Linked DNA regions of Homo sapiens. The protein of the gene in region 6 purifies or fractionates together with the protein of the main gene of each other region. This does not show direct contact. Each region holds a gene or a part of one and is shown on either strand. Other genes may lie near its edges.

Region 1 (3,155 bases), on a different chromosome or scaffold from region 6:
AAAAACCGAATTGGGTTTAGTCAATCACTGCACTGCATGCAAACAAGAAACGTGTCACACTTGTGACGTCGGGCATTCATATAGGAAGAACGCGGTGTGTAACACTGTGTACACCTCAAATACCACCCCAACCCACTCCCTGTAGTGAATCCTCTGTTTAGAACACCAAAGATAAGGACTAGATACTACTTTCTCTTTTTCGTATAATCTTGTAGACACTTACTTGATGATTTTTAACTTTTTATTTCTAAATGAGACGAAATGCTGATGTATCCTTTCATTCAGCTAACAAACTAGAAAAGGTTATGTTCATTTTTCAAAAAGGGAAGTAAGCAAACAAATATTGCCAACTCTTCTATTTATGGATATCACACATATCAGCAGGAGTAATAAATTTACTCACAGCACTTGTTTTCAGGACAACACTTCATTTTCAGGAAATCTACTTCCTACAGAGCCAAAATGCCATTTAGCAATAAATAACACTTGTCAGCCTCAGAGCATTTAAGGAAACTAGACAAGTAAAATTATCCTCTTTGTAATTTAATGAAAAGGTACAACAGAATAATGCATGATGAACTCACCTAATTATGAGGTGGGAGGAGCGAAATCTAAATTTCTTTTGCTATAGTTATACATCAATTTAAAAAGCAAAAAAAAAAAAGGGGGGGGCAATCTCTCTCTGTGTCTTTCTCTCTCTCTCTTCCTCTCCCTCTCTCTTTTCATTGTGTATCAGTTTCCATGAAAGACCTGAATACCACTTACCTCAAATTAAGCATATGTGTTACTTCAAGTAATACGTTTTGACATAAGATGGTTGACCAAGGTGCTTTTCTTCGGCTTGAGTTCACCATCTCTTCATTCAAACTGCACTTTTAGCCAGAGATGCAATATATCCCCACTACTCAATACTACCTCTGAATGTTACAACGAATTTACAGTCTAGTACTTATTACATGCTGCTATACACAAGCAATGCAAGAAAAAAACTTACTGGGTAGGTGATTCTAATCATCTGCAGTTCTTTTTGTACACTTAATTACAGTTAAAGAAGCAATCTCCTTACTGTGTTTCAGCATGACTATGTATTTTTCTATGTTTTTTTAATTAAAAATTTTTAAAATACTTGTTTCAGCTTCTCTGCTAGATTTCTACATTAACTTGAAAATTTTTTAACCAAGTCGCTCCTAGGTTCTTAAGGATAATTTTCCTCAATCACACTACACATCACACAAGATTTGACTGTAATATTTAAATATTACCCTCCAAGTCTGTACCTCAAATGAATTCTTTAAGGAGATGGACTAATTGACTTGCAAAGACCTACCTCCAGACTTCAAAAGGAATGAACTTGTTACTTGCAGCATTCATTTGTTTTTTCAATGTTTGAAATAGTTCAAACTGCAGCTAACCCTAGTCAAAACTATTTTTGTAAAAGACATTTGATAGAAAGGAACACGTTTTTACATACTTTTGCAAAATAAGTAAATAATAAATAAAATAAAAGCCAACCTTCAAAGAAACTTGAAGCTTTGTAGGTGAGATGCAACAAGCCCTGCTTTTGCATAATGCAATCAAAAATATGTGTTTTTAAGATTAGTTGAATATAAGAAAATGCTTGACAAATATTTTCATGTATTTTACACAAATGTGATTTTTGTAATATGTCTCAACCAGATTTATTTTAAACGCTTCTTATGTAGAGTTTTTATGCCTTTCTCTCCTAGTGAGTGTGCTGACTTTTTAACATGGTATTATCAACTGGGCCAGGAGGTAGTTTCTCATGACGGCTTTTGTCAGTATGGCTTTTAGTACTGAAGCCAAATGAAACTCAAAACCATCTCTCTTCCAGCTGCTTCAGGGAGGTAGTTTCAAAGGCCACATACCTCTCTGAGACTGGCAGATCGCTCACTGTTGTGAATCACCAAAGGAGCTATGGAGAGAATTAAAACTCAACATTACTGTTAACTGTGCGTTAAATAAGCAAATAAACAGTGGCTCATAAAAATAAAAGTCGCATTCCATATCTTTGGATGGGCCTTTTAGAAACCTCATTGGCCAGCTCATAAAATGGAAGCAATTGCTCATGTTGGCCAAACATGGTGCACCGAGTGATTTCCATCTCTGGTAAAGTTACACTTTTATTTCCTGTATGTTGTACAATCAAAACACACTACTACCTCTTAAGTCCCAGTATACCTCATTTTTCATACTGAAAAAAAAAGCTTGTGGCCAATGGAACAGTAAGAACATCATAAAATTTTTATATATATAGTTTATTTTTGTGGGAGATAAATTTTATAGGACTGTTCTTTGCTGTTGTTGGTCGCAGCTACATAAGACTGGACATTTAACTTTTCTACCATTTCTGCAAGTTAGGTATGTTTGCAGGAGAAAAGTATCAAGACGTTTAACTGCAGTTGACTTTCTCCCTGTTCCTTTGAGTGTCTTCTAACTTTATTCTTTGTTCTTTATGTAGAATTGCTGTCTATGATTGTACTTTGAATCGCTTGCTTGTTGAAAATATTTCTCTAGTGTATTATCACTGTCTGTTCTGCACAATAAACATAACAGCCTCTGTGATCCCCATGTGTTTTGATTCCTGCTCTTTGTTACAGTTCCATTAAATGAGTAATAAAGTTTGGTCAAAACAGATCAAGGAGGGAGACACTCACAAGTCATTTTGTTGCACCCCTTGCACACATCTTGGCACACATGTACATAAAGTGTGTTTTACATATCATACTCCTTCAATCAACTGCCCTGAGCTCGCCTTTCAGATTTTGACATTTAATTCTACAGAGACAATCTTAGAAGAAACATGAAGAACAAGCTGTAGCTCCAAACTACAGAATTTTTACTTCAGGCTAGCACCTACAAAGTTTGTAAGGGAAGTAACTAATGCACTAGTCGTCTTTGAAGTAACATTGGAAAGAGATCCGGAAGATTGATGAATAAGAAATGAAAGCCACGAAGAGTCTCCTAGATAGGAGCCTTTTAACTCTAAAAACTACTAGCAGAGTCAGAATGATTCTACCAAGTTCAAGGTCAACTTGACACTTAAGTTGCTAATTATGAATAAATCTAGGATTTTTAAAAAGCTAAAACTTTCGGTTTTTACTATCACCGTTGTTACTCAAATTTTCTTCATTTAG
Region 2 (3,421 bases), on a different chromosome or scaffold from region 6:
GTCATCTGTTTCTAGTTCTGTAATTGGAGGGACCCCACTGCCTGGCTGGCTCCTTGGAGGCTCTGTTTGGCTCAGCAGCTCCAGGCCTCCCACCAGGCAAAGGGAAGGAGAACAGGAAGGACTTACATGCCTAGTCAGCCTGTATAATTTATATAGCCTGTTCTGTGACCCTCTCTTTTTACTAGTGGAGAATCCCTTAAAAGCAGCCACAGTTGTTTTAGGACCAATGAAAGGAAATGCCCTTTTTTTCATAGCTGCTTATAAACATATGTAACCTATTACAAGAAGTTACATAAGTCAGAATTTAAACTGGTCCAAATTGTCGGGCTCTGATAAAAGTAGGAAAATTGATTTTCCAGTTAAATCTAGGTGAGAGTGTCATTTTCCTTCTTTTTAAAGTTGCACAAAAATATCAACAAGCTTCACACCAACTCATACCAAGCAACGTGTTTTCCTCCTAAATTTCATTTTTGTTGTAATTTTCAGTTTGACTTCGGTCTTGATTCTTCTTTTTCTCTTCCCTTCCAGCACTCACCTTCCCCACGTAGTTTTATAGTGTTGTGATTGGTGGCTAGTGGAGGTATAGGATTTAAATTAGATATGTTGCTATGACTTCATAGCCATACCCTTGGCCTTTTCCTTCCTGTTGTGCAACTGTTTCTGTCTCTCTTTCTAGCTCCGTCTCTGTCTCTCTCTGGGGACAGAAAAGTTACTCATTTCTAATATGGGGGGAAATTTTCTCGTTTATTATAAATCTTTCCCTCATTTGTGTTTTTTAAAAATACACGGAATGATAAAAATATAGCTCTCTACGTTGCAAACCCAGTCCTCCTTTTATTCTTAGACATTTCAATCTTTAGTCTTCTTTGATTCAGCTCTTTTTCTCTTCTCAGTGTGCAATATGGTGTCTATCTGTACTTACCTACTCACTGGCATTGTCCATTGGCTCCAGATTCTACCCAGCCTACCCTTGATGGCTCTCTAATCTCTGCCACTTCTAAACTTCTGGTTCATATTTCCATTGGCCTCATCTGTATTTCCAATTGGATGTCTGATGAGCACCTCAACTACAGCAATTTTAGAATTAAATTTCACCCATTATCACTGTCCAGAAAACACCTGTTTACCTCCTGGAATCAGTATATTCTTTTACTTCTGCCTTTTTTCACTTGCCAGCCAGCTCTTAATATCTTAATTTGTTTCTCTTTTTCACTGTTCATATCCCATCAGAAAAAATATCTTGTCCATTCTACCTCAAAAGTGTGCTCTTGTGATGGTATAAATACAATATTGTGAGAGCACTAAGGAAAAAAACACTTAACTGTGCCTTTCAGAGTCAGGAAAACTTCCTAAAAGTGGTATTTAAAAGTGAAGTTTGTGAACTACTTCCTTTTCATCCTGTTTTGATATCTTTACAAGTTTGTTTTTCTAGTCTGTAAGCTTTTAAAGAGCATGAATTTGTTATTTATATGTTAAATGTCTCACAGTATGTGAGAGGTGAGTGCTTAATGTTTATGAAATTGATAACTGTGAATGAATGTCTGCAGCCTACCTCATCTAGTCAGCTATCTTGCGGTGTTCTTTCATACTCCTTTTCCAACCACGCTACGCTTCTCTTATTCTTCAATAATTAAGCATGCTTGTCTTAACTCTGTACCATTACGCATGTAATTAATTTCCTTTGCAAAATACTCTTATGGTATCTTTCCTCCCTCCAATTGGCTAGTCCTCCTTTCATTTTAAAGATTTTGTTCAGACGAGACCCTTCTGAAACATTTGTAGACTTCAGTGAACATCATAAATGTCTAATAAATACTTACTAAATGAATAAACCAAGGAAGTTATATTTCCCTTTAGCCTTCTCTTACTATCTCCTGGACAAATCACTAATAGTCTTTTTATTCCACTCTTTTTAATCACCATACTAGGAACTCTTAACACATAATATGACCTCAGTGGTTACATTTGAAACTCTGAAAGTAATCAAAATAATAAGCAGCCATTATATAATGTGGGTAATGTTCCACCAGGCATTAAATGGCTATCTTGGCAGGCAGTACAGTGTTTCTGAAAGTCACCTACAGTGTTTCTTCCTGGACCTCCGTGATATGGGTAAACACAGTGTAAGTTTAGTAATTTGAATAATATGCTTTCCACTCAATCACTAGGTGCCAATGAACTGGCTGTGCAGAAAGCAAAGGCAGAAATCACCAGGCTCATAAAAGAAGAGCTGATCCGGCTGGTGAGTGAAAACCTTAAAGTTTCGTTTGTTTTGTTTTAATAAGTGTTTTATTGAAATATAAATACAGAGAAGTACTCAAATCATAAACATATAGTTTGATGAATTTTCACAAAGTAATAAGCATACCAGTGTAGTCACTACCCAGATCAAGAAATAAAAAACATTACTAATATCCCAGAAGTCTTCTCTGTGTCTATTCTTGTCACTATTCATCTCCCCCCAACAAAACCATACCTTGAATTTTTTTTCTTTTCTTTTCTTTTTTTTTTTTGGAGACTGAGTCTTGCATTGTCACCCAGGCTGGAGTGCAGTGGCACGATCTCGGCTCACTGCAACCTCCGCCTCCTGCGTTCAAGTGATTCTCCTGCCTCAGCCTCCTGAGTAGCTGGGATTACAGGCGCACACCACCGCATCTGGCTAATTTTTGTATTTTTAGTAGAGATGGTGTTTCACTGTGTTGGCAAGGCTGGTCTCGAACTCCTGACCTCATGATTCACCTGCCTTGGCCTCCCAAAGTGCTGGGATTACAGGCGTGAGCCGTGGCGCCCGGCCCTATATTGTGAATTTTAAAATCATAGATTAGTTTTTCCTGTTTTTGAACTCCACATAAGTGTAATCATGCGTTTGCACCTTTTGCATCTAGTTTCCTTCACTCAACATTTTGAGGAGATCGGTCCATGTTATTGCATGTAGCAATAATTCATTTTCATGGCCATATAATATTTATATGATTATACAACAATTAATTTATATTTATATATTGGATTTGGGGGCTATTCTTATTTTTGGTTTTTATGAACAACACTTCTGTGAACATTATTCCATGTGCGTTTGGTATATATTAGCATGATTTTTTCCTTGGGTATATACCTCGGAGTAGAATTGTTAATTATAGGCTAGGTATTGCTAAATAGTTTTCCAAAGAGGTTACATCAATTCACACTCAATCCAGAAGTGTAGAAAATTCCAGTTGTTCTACATATTTGCCAACACATGGTGTTGTCAGTGTCTTTAAACTTAAACAATGACTTAATTTGATTTTGGAAAAAGCCCTTTACAGACTGCCTTTCCCGAGGAGGTAGACATGTCCTTGTGTCTTTAGTGCCAGTTGCAGCTTATAAACACTCCCTACAGTGTGTACATTTCCTTTGAAAGGAAACGTTGTCTTTTATCTAAGTG
Region 3 (3,500 bases), on a different chromosome or scaffold from region 6:
AAAGTGTTTGATAAGTGTGTTGCATGGTGTATGGAGGTATCATGGAACTCCACATCTATGGCATTGTCTTGCTCATCATTATAGCAGCGAATAATTCCAATAGAGTTCCACACCTACAAACAGGTAAGATTAAATATAAGTCTGAGAAAAACTGAAGCTCCTAGAATCAGTAAGCCACAGTAGTACAAATTAACAAATATTATAATTAAATTTGTATTAAGATTTAGGTTTTGGGAGTTACTACATCTCATCTATCTCTAAATAGTTTCTGACAGGAGTCATAATACCAGAGCTACAATTACTTATTATTTCCTTGGTGAGAATAAGATACATATATACTTATTAATTAGCAAATAGAGTATTTAATAATATTTAAAAATAAATTACATGACTGTTACTTTAAAAGCACATTACAGTTGTCCTTTGAACAACCAAACCATTAAATTCCTCAAAAGAAATATTTCAAAAATTGAGTTTTCTTACAAATATGGATGCAAATAACAACAGACTTTTTTCCTAACTATTCTATGATAAAATAAATACATACATTTTAAGAAAACATAATTTTTTTTTTTTTTTGGAGACAGTTTTGCTCTGTCACCCAAGCTGGAGTGCAGTGGCATGATCTCGGCTCACCGCAACCTCTGCCTCCTGGATTCAAGTGATTCTCCTCCCTCAGCCTCCTGTGTAGCTGTGGTTACAGGTGCATGCCACCAGGTCCAGCTAATTTCTGTATTTTTTTAGTAGAGATAGGGTGTTTCACCATGTTGGCCAGGCTGGTCTCCAACTCCTATCCTCAAGTGACCAACCCACCTTGGCCTCCCAAAGTGCTGGGATTATAGGCGTGAGCCATCACGCCCGGCAGAGGCAACATAAATTGATACCACTTGGAAAACTTATCTTCCACTGATGTCCATTATAGGCTCACACTAGGCCCTAGAGTTTCTAATAAAATTAGTGCCAATATTTTATTTAACATAACTATAAATAAAATATTGACACTAATAAAAAAATTAAGACCTATGACTTGATGACTACTGATAGCAATAAAAAGTTTTATTAATATTAATCACCACCCTTAATCTTTACATAAAAATTTATGCCAGGCCTATACTCTTCAAATTTATGCCAGGCCTATACTTTTAAAAAGGCAAAATCCTCAGAATGGAAAACATCATATAACCAACACAGAAAAACTAAACTTTTTAAGAACTCAGGCCAGGCGCGGTGGCTCACGCCTGTAATCCCAGCACTTTGGGAGGCCTAGGCAGGCGGATCACGAGGTCAGGAGATCGAGACCATCCTGTCTAACATGGTGAAATCCCATCTCTACTAAAAATACAAAAATTAGCTGGGCATGGTGGCAGGCACCTGTAGTCCCAGCTACTCGGGAGGCTGAGGCAGGAGAATGGCGTGAACCTGGGAGGCGGAGCTTGCAGTGAGCAGAGATTGTGCCACTGCACTCCAGCCTGGGCAACAGAGCGAGACTCCATCTCAAAAAAAAAAAAAAAGAACTCAAATCTAAGGCAAAAAGCCAATATATTCATTTTGTCTATTCATGAAATATATATTTAATGTGCACTGTATCATACCTTGTTCCAAATCCTAAGAACATATCAGTAAACAAAACAAAAATCTTTATCCTCGTGTAGCTTACATTCTGGTGGGTGGTGGAGTGAGGAAAAGGGTCAGACTTTTCCCCCCATAGTACTTGCCACCTTCTAATATATTATACTAGTAGTTGCCTTCTAAGAAAGCACCTCCTTACTAGTGTTTTGGAGTCAGTATAATCTTCTATGTAACAATGACCATGAAGAATAAGGTTTGAAAGTATTGCCAAGAAATATTGCAAGATAGTAATATTTACTTATGTTCATTTAATGTCATTTTGGAAAGCAGAATTTTATTTAACATCATTTTCAATAAGGTTGAAACAAGATTAAAACTGTGAGCTAACCATAAAATAAACCAACCACAAAACTGTAATCAACCAAAGTGCTCCAGGCTACTTAATCAAAGTTTTTAAAAATATGTTTTATCCAAAAAAATTAACTATAGTAAGAAAAAAGTGCTGAAAACCTACTAAGAAGTTAAGTGTAGATCCAAGTCTTACCATGAATCTGTGAGTGAGATGCAACGGTGTAGAACCTGACTGAAATGGCTTTTGCCGGGGAGTTGGCATGGGTCCATCATAAAATGGCCTTTGGGATGTTACAAGTGGTAGATTGTGAATGCTGCCTTCTTGACCATCTTCCTCCTCCTCTTTGAGAAGACTAGAACCAGTTTTTAGCATTGAAATATCTACAACACAAAGGATCATAATTAAGGGAATCACGAATACCAATGATTTGGAAAAAGGAAAGCATTATGGAATCTAGTAACTTTTTCATTCATATTCAATGACACTGACATGCTATTTGCCTCTTTCACTGTGTTAAAGAGATGCAGTGATGGTGCAAAAGCAATGGTGGGTAAAATTCCTGGTGCCTTGGCACCAATCAAGGCAGTGGCACCTAACTGTATTAGTCGTTACTGCATTGTTAACCACTACTCACTTGCAGTAAAAATATTAATTTTATTAAATCTTGACGCTTACACAGATTTTTTTTTTAAAGTTCTGTGTGCTAAAATGAGAAGTGTGATGGTTGTCTTGAAAAAAAGCACTTATGCAATTGTTTGAGTTGTAAGCTGAACTAAGTGATTTTTTTTCATACAACACTACTTTTACTTAAAAAACACATGCCAGATAAACTACGGTTATGCAGAATTGGATCTTTGGCAAACATTTTCTTGTAAATGAATGAAGTGAGCCTATCAATTAAGAAAAAATAACTGGCAGAATTTGTTGCCAATGATAACATTTGAGCTTTCAGGCCAGGCACGGTGGCTCACACCTGTAATCCCAGCACTTTGCAAGGCCGAGGCAGGCAGATCACTTAAGGTCGGGAGTTCCACGTTGACCAGCCTGGCCAACATGGTGAAACCCTGTCTCTACTGAAAATACAAAAATTAGCCAGGCATGGTGGCACATGCCTGTAATCCCATCTACTCGGGAGGCTGAGACAGGAGAATCGCTTGAACCCGGGAGACTCCGTCTCAAAAAAAAAAGAGCTGGGCACAGTGGCTCAGGCCTGTAATCCCAGCACTTTGGGAGGCCAAGGTGGGTAGATCATTTGAGGTCAGGAGTCCGAGACCAGATTGACCTACATAGTGAAACCCCGTCTCTACTAAAATACAAAAATTAGCCTGGCATGGTGGCGGGCACCTATAATCCCAGCTACTCAGGAGGCTGAGGCAGGAGAATCACTTGTACCCAGAGGGCAGAGGTTGCAGTGAACCGAGATCGTGCCACTGCACTCTAGGCTGGGTGACAGAGCAAGACTCCCTCTCAAAAAATAAAAACAAGAAATTTGAGCTTTCAATTAAAAATTAAGATATTGGAAAGCTTCTATTTGCCATTATGAGCTTCACAACTTTCTAATACTTAGAAACTACTGATG
Region 4 (3,500 bases), on a different chromosome or scaffold from region 6:
TCTGTAGCTGGATGCAGTGGCTAGTGCCTGTAATCTTGGTGACTCAGGGGGCTGAGGTGGAAGGATCACTTGAGCCCAGTTTAAGGCTGCAGTGAGGTATGAGAGTGCCACTGCACTCCAGCCTGGGCAATGTGAAACCCCATCTCAAAAAAAAAAAAAAAAGTTTCTATCTGTGTAGTGGGCCAAGAAAGTTGCACAGAAATATTAAACATTGTTTTTATTAGTAGAAAACTGGGAACAACTTAAATGTCCTTTAATAGGAGTTTGGTGAAATAAATGGTCATATGTATAATATAGATATCTCTATTCTTTAAACAGAAGGAAATCTATATGTAGAAAAATGGAAAGATGTCTCAGATAATATTAACTTCAATTAGTTAAGTTGCAGAATAGTACATATACTATGATTTCATCTTTGTAAATAAACTGTATAGGTGTGTGTTATAAATTATATATGTATGTATTTACATATATTTAGGATTACATATAGAAAAAGATGGAAAGTTTTTTGTTTTTTTTGTTTTTTTTTTGAGACAGAGTCTTGCTCTGTCACCCAGGCTGGAATGCAAGGCGATCTCGGCTTACTGCAAGCTCCGCCTCCCGGGTTCACACCATTCTCCTGCCTCAGCCTCCCGAGTAGCTGGGACTACAGGCGCCTGCCACCATGCCTGGCTAATTTTTTGTATTTTTAGTAGAGACAGGATTTCACCATGGTCTTGATCTTCTGACCTCGTGATCCGCCTGCCTCGGCCTCCCAAAGTGCTGGGATTACAGGCGTGAGCCACTGCACCTGGCCGGAAAGGATTTTTTACAATAGTGTCCCAATTTTTACTACCTTAAACTTTCTGATTAGAAAAAAAGATCAGATTGAGAATGTAAATAATAATGAGAGCCTTTTAAAATACTAAGTAAAATTGGAATATATATTTTTAAATAGCTTGCTAGTTTTCAAAAGGTACTGTTCAAAGAAAATAAAATTGATATTCTTTTCTATATTTAAAAAATAAATGTACTTATCATTATTCAGAATGATATGGTGTGAGGATTCAGTCATTGGTAAGAGCCTGAGTCGATGTGGTGTTTCTTTAGGCATCATACACTTGATCTTACAGCTTTTTTGTAGGACAAAATTAAACATCCTAAGTTTAATTTTACAACTTTATTTCCATTTTATTTGATTTTCTACTGTAAAGTAGCTATAAATGCTGAAATGTATACCCCAAATATAGTTATTTATAAAAAGTTTTGTTTCTTGAAAGAATATATTTACAGTCTTTAAAATTTATTTTGTTTTATTTTAGCTTAAAACAATAGAAACCTTATTGGGTAGTACAACCAAAATCGGAGATGCGATTGTTCTTGGAATGATAACGCAGTTAAAAGAGGTAACTTAATAAGCATCAAACTTTTATTTTTGGCCTTGGATTGATGAAATGTCGGTTACATAGAACATTTTTGTAGTGGGCACAGGAATGTATTCTTTATTGAAAACTCGCCTCACCAACAGAACAATATTGGAATAGTGGTAATACGAGGAAATAGTATCATCATGTCAGAAGCCTTGGAACAAGGATAAATAATGGCTGTTGGCTGGGCGCGGTGGCTCACGCCTGTAATCCTAGCCACTTTGGGAGGCTGAGGTGGGCGGATCACCTGAGGCCGGGAGTTCAAGACCAGCCTGACCAACATGGAGAAACCCTGTCTCTACTAAAAATACAAAATTAGCCAGGCGTGGTGGCACATGCCTGTAATCCCAGCTACTCAGGAGGCTGAGGCAGAAGAATTCCTTGAACTCGGGAGGTGGAGGTTGTAGTGAGCTGAGATGGTGCCATTGCACTGTAGCCTGGGCAACAAGAGCGAAACTTTGTCTCAAAAATAAATAAATAAATAAAATAATAATGGCTGTTCAGCAGAGAAACCCATTTTCTCTCTCCATAGGGCCTGTTTTACAATGACGTAAAAATTAGGTCATGTACATTTTCATATTAGACTTTTTGTTAAATAAACTTTTGTAATAGTAAAAAAAAAAAAAAAAAACCCAGAAAAAACAAAAACCTTTTCTCAGTCACCAAGTGTCTTTTTCATCTGTGTTTGGTTTCCTGAGAAGACATCAGGACAGAGTGTCTTGTGCAGGAGCCCAGTTTGCATAGCCTGAAATTAGGCCTGTAGTGACCTCTGGATAAACGGAGAGTACTGGGTTTCTGAACAAGCAAGCTGCAGAGTATGTCCTGGTCCCTTGGACATGCTGTTGGCTGTCTTAGAAGGTACCTGGGGAGACCCTCCTTATGGCAGACATCAAATGTCCCTCTTGCCATTTCTTATCTGTAGGAGTCATTCTCCATTGTACCTGTGAGGAGTCAGAATCTCAGTTAAGTGATTAGTCTGGGGTTATCAGACTAGTAAATGGAAGAGCCTGGACTAGAAATAATAGCTGATTTTTAAAATCCACTTTCTCCCTATTGTATTCTGTTGTCAAACTTGTAGTTTAATTTTTTTGTCAACGGTTTTCATTGTTACATAAATGTGGATTTATTTATTTTCATTTTTTTAGGGAAAATTTTTTCTGGAAGATCCTACTGGAACAGTCCAACTAGACCTTAGTAAAGCTATATCCTTCACTTGTCTGTATTTTTTAAAATCTGCATTACGTGAATTGGGGAAATTGATTATATATCCTTCTAAAATTTACCTATTTGGGTTCTCAATGTAACTTCTCTATGTTGCTGGTGTAGGAATGTAGAGATATAATCCTAAACAGGGACAGAACAACTTTAATTTTCTCTTATTTGGAGAATCTAGATGAATCACTGACGAAATTTATATCATGGTAAGAATGATCCACCCTGTCAATATTACCAAGAATTAAACATGAGGACATTTAAAACTAAAATTTTTTAAGCTCTTTCTAAGCTGTGGTCTATTCACAGTTTCAAATGGGAAGTCTTTAAATTTATTATTTAGAAGCCTTGTTGGACTCAAAATGTATGTTGACTTTATTACTGCCTCAAGAATAGAATTATTTTCCTCAACTGTTGTGTACCAGTTCCATAGTGGTTTATACACAGAGGCATGCTTTGTCTTAGCAGAAGGTAAGTCAGTATACTTTGTTACTGTCCTTCTTCTCATTCTCCAGTAAAACTTTCTGCTTTGGGTAAAATATGTTAACATGATATAATTTGGGATACCATTAATTAGAAGAGCATATTTTTGGCAAAATAACTCTTAGACTGTTAATGGGCTAATAGAAATCTTTTTGGGGTGATGAAAATGTTCTGAAATTAGATAGTAGTAATGGCTACACAACTTGTGAATATACTAAAAATCACCGAATTACACACCCTTTTTTTTTTTTTTCTTTTTTTTTTGGAGACAGAGTCTCACTCTGTCACCTAGGCTGGAGTGCAGTGGCGCGATCTCGGCTCACTGCAACCTCCGCCTCCCGGGTTCAAGTGATTCTCATGCCTCAGCCTTCCGAGTAGCTGAGATTATAGGCGCATGCC
Region 5 (3,500 bases), on a different chromosome or scaffold from region 6:
TTTATTTTTTTTGAGACGGAGTCTCGCTTTGTCACCCAGGCTGGAGTGCAGTGGCGCAATCTCAGCTCACTGCAACCTCCACCTCCCGGGTTCAAGCGATTCTTCTGCCTCAGCCTCCCGAGTAGCTGGCACTGCAGGCGCCCGCCACCATGCCCAGCTAATTTCTGTATTTTTAGTAGAGACGGGGTTTCACCGTGTTAGCCAGGATGGTCCCAATCTCCTGAACTTGTGATCCGCCTGCCTTGACCTCCCAAAGTGCTGGGATTGATTACAGGGGTGAGCCACCGTGCCTGGCCTATTAATTTATTTTAGGGCCGGGGTGTTGCTCTGTCGCCCAGGCTGGAGGGCAGTGGCGCAATCATCGCTCACTGCAGCCTCCACCTCCTGGGCTCATCATCCTCCCAGCTCAGCCTCCCAAGTAGCTGGGATTACAGGCATGCACCACCACGCCTGGCTAATTTTTAAAAATTTTTTCGGCCGGGCACGGTGGCTCACGCCTATAATCCCAGCACTTTGGGAGGCCGAGGCAGGTGGATCACGAGGTCAGATCGAGACCATCCTGGCTAACACGGTGAAACCCCGTCCCTACTAAAAATGCAAAAAAAAAAAAAAAAAAAAAAATTAGCCAGGCGTGGTGGTGGGCGCCTGTAGTCCCAGCTGCTGTGGAGACTGAGGTAGGAGAATGGCGTGAACCCGGGAGGCAAAGCTTGCAGTGAGCTGAGATTGCGCCACTGCACTCCAGCCTGGGTGACAGAGCGAGACTCTGTCTCAAAAAAATAAAAATAAAAATAAATAAAAATAAAAAAATTTTGTGGAGCAGGGGCCTCGCTATGTTGCCCTGGCTGGTCTCAAACTCCTGAGCTCAAGTGATCCTCCCACCTCAGCCTCCCAGAGATTACAGGTAAAAACTGCACCCAGCCTGGGGCCTCACCCTTTGAGGGGCTCGATGACAGTGGCTCCCGTGTAGTCCTCGCCGCCCTCTGACTTCACCACGGGCATCAGCAGCCCCTCGTGCATGGCCTGGGAGGGGAGAAGGTGGGAAATGGAGTGGGTATAGGTGGGGCCGTGCGGATTGGGAGTGGGGAGAAAAAGTGCATCCAGGATGCCATTGCCTGGAGGGGGCCACAGACGTGCCTGGTGGGGGGTGGCGAGGACAAGTCTCGGCTACTGACCTGCCGCAACAGCTGGGATACGACCTTGACCTGCTGGCCACGACTGAGCAGGTAGCTGAGGGGCACGCCAGTGACCCTCGCCATCTCCACGGCGTTCACCAGCACCATGAGCCGCTCCAGCAGCCGCAGTGGCAGGTAGGCATCCTTCAGGCAGTACACAGCCAGGCGGCGGCGGGTCTGGTCGTTCCCATTCTGGGGATGGGCACGGATGGGGTCAGGGACCAGGGGTTGGGGGTGGGAGGTGGAGCAGGAGAAGGAAGTGGGGGTCAGGGTGAGGTAGCCTGGGGAGGGCCTGGGAGGTGAGGCGGGCAGGAGGGCCCTCCAAGTCGTCAGGGTCTGGGTGGGGATGGAGGTAGGGTTGGGGGCCAGGGAGTCCACAGGGCCAGAGGGAGGAGGAGGGAGCAGCCTGAAGGCCACCGTGGACCTGTGGTCAGGCCAGGAAAGCAGAGACAAGGTCATAGTGACAGAGGTCACAGGAGTGGAGAGAAATCTGGGGTCAGAGGTCAGGAAAAAGTGGGCGTCAGGTAAGGTCACAGGTCATAACAGCAGGTCAAAGAGTGAGGTCAGACGTGGGGGCGTGAAGTTGAGGTCAGAGGCCGGGGAAGGGTGAGGTGGAGGTCAGAGGTTGGGGTGAGAGGTCAGGGAGGCAGCAGGCACCTGCAGGTCGGTGATGATGCTGTGCTGCACGTCCTCCTTCTGCTCGCCCAGGAAGTGGAAGCTCACGGCATTGAGCGTGTAGGAGCGGAGCTTGTACTCCCGCAGCAGCACCTAGGTGGGTGGGTGGGCTGGTGGGCTGCGGGCCTGGGCAGTGGCCTTCCAAGGACAGGGACACACCCCACCTCCCGCCCATACCTGCAGCATGTCCATCTGCACGCGGCCCACCATGCTGACAACCTTGGTGTCCCGCCGGCCCGTCTGCTTGGACTGGAATGAAGAGTCCCGGATGTTGGAGCAAAGGCCGGCCACACGGCCCAGGAAAGGGAATGTTTGTACCTGAGGAGGAGAGGCAGGGTGTGCAGCAGGCTGCGGGTCCCCGTCACATAAGCCTGAAGAACGGAGATTGAGACCAACCACAACATCCTTATAACAACCCTAGGGGGTCGAGAGCAACCCTGGGGGCAGAAAGACGGTCTGGGGCTGGGTGTGGGTGGCTGGAGACTGGGGAGGGAGTCCGGAGTAAGGACTAAGCTGCAGCCAAGGCTGGGATAGCGAGAGTCAGGGGCCCTGATGGACTGGGGGCCAAGGATGGAGCCCAGTGTCTGCGGGCTGTACCTAGGCAGGAAACAGGAAGAGATTTGGGGACACTGTGAGCAGGCGGCCAGGTGGGGGCAGAGGCAGGAGGCGGCGTGGAGCTGGGCTGAGATGGATGCTGAGGGCGCTGGAGGGCGCCTGGCTGCAGGAGGCCTTGCAGGGTGCTGGGGCCCAGCCTGGGGGAGACTGAGGCCAGAAGAAGCCTGAGCTGGGGACAGGGCAGAGGGTGAGGGACACCCAGGGAAGGGGAGGAGGAGTACCATGGCCCGGGCATCAGCGCCACGCTGTGGAATATACACTGGGGGTCCTAAGAGTTTGTTCTGTATTTTAGAATGGATTTTTTCTTGTTTTCTCTTTAATAGAGGCAGGGTCTTGCTATGTTGCCCTGGCTGGTCTTGAACTCCTGGGCTCCATCGATCCTCTCGCCTCATCCTCCCAAAGTGCTGGGATTAGAGGCGTGAGCCACCACACCCAGCCTGTTTTGTTTTTCCATTACCAAGCTGGCCAGACATAGAGAAAAGCAGGAAAATAAGGCAATATATCTCATTAAGGGCTGAACCATGTTCTCCCAAAAGATGTTGAAGCCCTAACCCCCGGCACCTCAGAATGTAACCTCATTTGGAAATATGTCTTCGCAGGGGGTCAAGTGAAGATGAGGTCACTGGGGTGGGCCCTCACCTCACGACGGTGTCACTACACAAAGAGGACATGTGGGCTAGGTGCACTGGCTCACACCTGTAATCCCAGCACTTTGAGAGGCTGAGGTGGGCAGATCACCTGAGGTGAGGATGGAGACCAGCCTGGCCAACATGATGAAACCTAGTCTCTGCTAAAAAAAACAAAAACAAAAACAAAAATAGGCCAGGCGCGGTGGCTCACGCCTGTAATCCCAGCACTTTGGGAGGCCGAAGTGGGCAGATCACCTGAGATTGGGAGTTCGAGACCAGCCTGGCCAACATGGAGAAACCCTGTCTACTAAAAATACAAAATTAGTCGGGCATGGAAGCGGGTGCCTATAATCCCAGCTACTTGGGAGGCTGAGGCAGGAGAATCACTTCTACACCCCAGCGCCCCCTG
Region 6 (3,500 bases):
TCTCCCAAAGTGCTGGGATTACAGGTGTGAGCCACCGCGCTGGCATGTATATGTATTTTTATTTCCTTTTCTTTCTTTTTTCTGAGACAGATTCTTGCTCTGTCGTCCAGGATGGAGTGCAGTGGTGCGATTTGGGCTCACTGCAACCTCCGCCTCCTGGGCTCAAGCTATCCTCCCACCTCAGTGTCCCGAGTAGCCAGGACTACAGGCACATCCTGCCACGCTCGGCTAATTTTTTGTGTTTTTAGTAGAGACAGAGTTTCGCCATGTTGCCCAGGCTGGTCTCAAACTCCTGGGCTCAAGCAGTCCGCCCGTTTTGCCCTGGGAAAGTGTTGGGATTACAGGCATGAGCCACGGTGCCCGGCCCCTTTTCTTTCTTAAACAAAAGATAATGTTATAGAGGTTTTGTACTTTGCTTTTTTCTTGTAGCAAGATGTCTTGAAAATTACCCCATATTAGAACATAGAGAGCTTGTTTTTAATTATTTATTTCTATGTAGCTGCATAGTATTCCATGATAGGGATTGCACAATGTTTATTCAAATGGTTTCCTTGGAAGGACATTTAGATTATTTTGAGTAATTTGCTATTATAATGCCACATCCAATAACTCTGTGCATATGGCGTTTTCCTCAGAGAAAATTCCCAGAAGTGGGATTGCTGGCTCAAAGAGTAGCTACGCATAAATTTTTTTTTTTTTGAGATGGAGTTTTGCTCGTTGCCTAAGCTGGAGTACAATGGCGCGATCTCGGCTCATTGCAACCTCTGCCTCCTGAGTTCAAGTGATTCTTCCGCCTCAGCCTCCTGAGTAGCTGGGATTACAGGTGCCTGCCACCACACCCAGCTAATTTTTGTATTTTTAGTAGAGACGGGGTTTCACCATGTTGGCCAGGCTGGTCTCGAGCTCCTGTCCTGAGATGATCCACCCGCCTTGGCCTCCCAAAGTGCTGGGATTACAGGCGTGAGCCACCACGCCCAGCCCACTACACATAAAATTTTATTAGCTATTGCCTATTCTTTATAGGAGCTGTCCCATTTTACACTCTCATGAACAATGTATGAATGTCTGTTTCTCTACAGCCTTACTAACAGTGTTTTCAAGCTTTTGAATTTTTGCCACTCTGATATGTGAGAAGTGGCATTTCAGTGTGGTTTTCATTTGCATTTTTTTTTGTTTGTTTGTTTTTGAGACTGAGTCTCACTTTGTCACCCAGGCAGGAGTGCAGTGGTGCGGTCTCAGGTCATTGCAACTTCCGCCTCCTGGTTTCAAGCGATTCTCCTGCCTCAGCCTCCCAAGTAGCTGGGACTACAGGTGTGTGCCACCATGCCCGGCTAATTATTGTATTTTTAGTAGAGATGGGGTTTCACTATGTTGGCCAGGCTGGTCTCGAACTCCTGACCTCGTATTCCGCCCGCCTCGTGGCCTCCCAAAGTGTTGGGATTACAGATGTGAGCCACCATGCCCAGCCTCATATGCATTTCTTTTACATATGAAATTGATCATCTTTTCATAAAACGTAACTATTTATATATGTTTGTGTTTACTGCCTGCTTTCCTTTTGGGCTTTTTATCTTTTAAGTTTTTAAAAGTTCTTTGTCAGGGAAATTGGTCCTTTATCTGTGATACATATTGCACAAATTTTTTCTTCATTTTTCTTTTAACTTGGTTTTCTTTTTTCTTGGTTTTTCTTTTTACACCAATTCTGGTGTAATTGAATTTATCATTTTTTTTCTTGCAAGTGGATTCTGAGTCATAGAAAGATTTTCACTGGACCCAAATTGCAAAGGAATTGCTTTTTAAAAGGTTTTTGTAAAGTTTCATTTTTAAAAATTTTGATTTGTGATCCATTTGGTGTTTATACTGGTTTACTTCTTTACAAATGGCTAGCCAACACTACTTAATAAAGTCCATCTTTTCCTTAGTGATATGGGATGCCACCTTCATTATATATTAAATTTCCATAAGTAATTGGGTCTTATTCTGGACTTTATGTTCTGTTTCATTTGGTCTATTTGTATGCCACTACCACATTCTTATTTTTTTTATTTTTTTATTTTGAGACAGAGTCTTGCTCTGTTGCCCAGGCTGGAGCGCTGGAGTGCAATGGCATGATCTCGGCTCACTGCAACCTCTGCCTCCTGGGTTCAAGCGATTCTCCTGCCCCAGCCTCCCGAGTAGCTGGGATTACAGGCATGCACCACCATGCCTGGCTAATTTTTGTATTTTTAGTAGAGACAGGGTTTCAGCATGTTGGTCAGGCTGGTCTCGAACTCCTGACCTCGTGATCTGCCTGCCTCGGCCTCCCAAAGTGCTGGGATTACAGGCGTGAGCCACCGCGCCTGGCCTACCACATTCTTTCAATTATTCATTGTTGGCTTTTTTTTGAGATCAGGACTATTCTGGGATGAATCAGAAAGCGAGAGTAAAATTGACGGTATTAGAAAAGTTTGTAGGTGATTTACACATAGCCGTAAGAGAAAACATATGGCAAAAGTTTTGTTTGTTTTTTTTCTTTTTCAAGACAGAGTCTTGCTCTGTTGCCAGGCTGGAGTGCAGTGGCGCGATCCCAGCTCACTGCAATCTCGCCTCCGGGGTTCAAGCGATTTCCCTGCCTCAGCCTCTCGAGTAGCTGGGATTACAGGCATGTGGCAACCACGCCTGGCTAATTTTTTGTATTTTAGTAGAGATGGGGTTTCACCATGTTGGCCAGGATGGTATCGATTTCCTGATCTCGTGATCCGCCCGCCTCGGTCTTTTAAAGTGTTGGGATTACAGGCGTGAGCCACCGCACCCGGCCAGCAAAAGTTGTTCTTTAATGAGCAGATGTCTCTGTGCTGTTTAGTGTTGATATGACATACTGTGTATCTGGTTGCTGTTTCTCATAAAATGGAAATTAGGATGCCACCATATCATAATTGGTAATCCCATTTCTTCACAGTTAAATTTTCCTATCAGATTCAGTATACAGCTAAAGAGATGATCTCATGAAGGCTACTAGGCTAATTTCTTGGTTCAAGATTAGCTTTATCTTTTTATTTCTGTGGGGAAAACAAACCCAAATTCTCACTTTTTTAAAAAGCTTTTTATTCACATTAACAATAGCAGTTAAGCAGTCACACTTATGCTGATATTTAACTGGTATTTCATTAGTTTCTATAAAAACATTTGGCCCATGTTTTCTTGAATTAAACTCATTTAAAATATTTTTTCCTACATACCTTGTATAGAATCTCATAGTTTTGTTTTGTTTTGTTTTTTGAGATGGAGTCTTGCTCTGTCGCCCAGGCTGGAGTGCAGTGGCGTGATCTTGGCTCACTGCAAGCTCCACCTTCTGGGTTCACACCATTCTCCTGCCTCAGCCTCTGGAGTAGCTGGGACTGCAGGCGCCCACCACCATGCCCGGCTAATTTTTTGTATTTTAGTAGGGACAGGGTTTCACTGTGTTAGCCAGGATGGTCTCGATCTCCTGATCTCGTGATCCTCCCGCCTTGGCCTCCCAA

Evidence for each region.
Region 1: the proteins of POLA1 (region 6) and HMGA2 fractionate together in Homo sapiens (co-fractionation; one large-scale study listed by BioGRID). This does not show direct contact.
Region 2: the proteins of POLA1 (region 6) and DDX46 fractionate together in Homo sapiens (co-fractionation; one large-scale study listed by BioGRID). This does not show direct contact.
Region 3: the proteins of POLA1 (region 6) and WDHD1 fractionate together in Homo sapiens (co-fractionation; one large-scale study listed by BioGRID). This does not show direct contact.
Region 4: the proteins of POLA1 (region 6) and POLE2 fractionate together in Homo sapiens (co-fractionation; one large-scale study listed by BioGRID). This does not show direct contact.
Region 5: the proteins of POLA1 (region 6) and POLD1 fractionate together in Homo sapiens (co-fractionation; one large-scale study listed by BioGRID). This does not show direct contact.

What each region holds. Positions count from the first base shown.
Region 1 is NC_000012.12:65,963,637-65,966,791, forward strand, and holds the end of HMGA2 (high mobility group protein HMGI-C), read left to right. Parts: 3' UTR 1-2,655; downstream 2,656-3,155.
Region 2 is NC_000005.10:134,824,779-134,828,199, forward strand, and holds part of DDX46 (probable ATP-dependent RNA helicase DDX46), read left to right. Parts: intron 1-2,168; coding exon 2,169-2,242; intron 2,243-3,421. UniProt on the Homo sapiens protein: Component of the 17S U2 SnRNP complex of the spliceosome, a large ribonucleoprotein complex that removes introns from transcribed pre-mRNAs.
Region 3 is NC_000014.9:54,989,100-54,992,599, forward strand, and holds part of WDHD1 (WD repeat and HMG-box DNA-binding protein 1), read right to left. Parts: intron 2,302-3,500; coding exon 2,114-2,301; intron 114-2,113; coding exon 1-113. UniProt on the Homo sapiens protein: Core replisome component that acts as a replication initiation factor. Binds directly to the CMG complex and functions as a hub to recruit additional proteins to the replication fork.
Region 4 is NC_000014.9:49,664,215-49,667,714, reverse strand, and holds part of POLE2 (DNA polymerase epsilon subunit 2), read left to right. Parts: intron 1-1,301; coding exon 1,302-1,385; intron 1,386-2,551; coding exon 2,552-2,608; intron 2,609-3,040; coding exon 3,041-3,089; intron 3,090-3,500. UniProt on the Homo sapiens protein: Accessory component of the DNA polymerase epsilon complex. Participates in DNA repair and in chromosomal DNA replication.
Region 5 is NC_000019.10:50,404,847-50,408,346, reverse strand, and holds part of POLD1 (DNA polymerase delta catalytic subunit), read right to left. Parts: intron 2,166-3,500; coding exon 2,025-2,165; intron 1,941-2,024; coding exon 1,830-1,940; intron 1,365-1,829; coding exon 1,173-1,364; intron 1,021-1,172; coding exon 932-1,020; intron 1-931. UniProt on the Homo sapiens protein: As the catalytic component of the trimeric (Pol-delta3 complex) and tetrameric DNA polymerase delta complexes (Pol-delta4 complex), plays a crucial role in high fidelity genome replication, including in lagging strand synthesis, and repair.
Region 6 is NC_000023.11:24,710,918-24,714,417, forward strand, and holds part of POLA1 (DNA polymerase alpha catalytic subunit), read left to right. Parts: intron 1-3,500. UniProt on the Homo sapiens protein: Catalytic subunit of the DNA polymerase alpha complex (also known as the alpha DNA polymerase-primase complex) which plays an essential role in the initiation of DNA synthesis.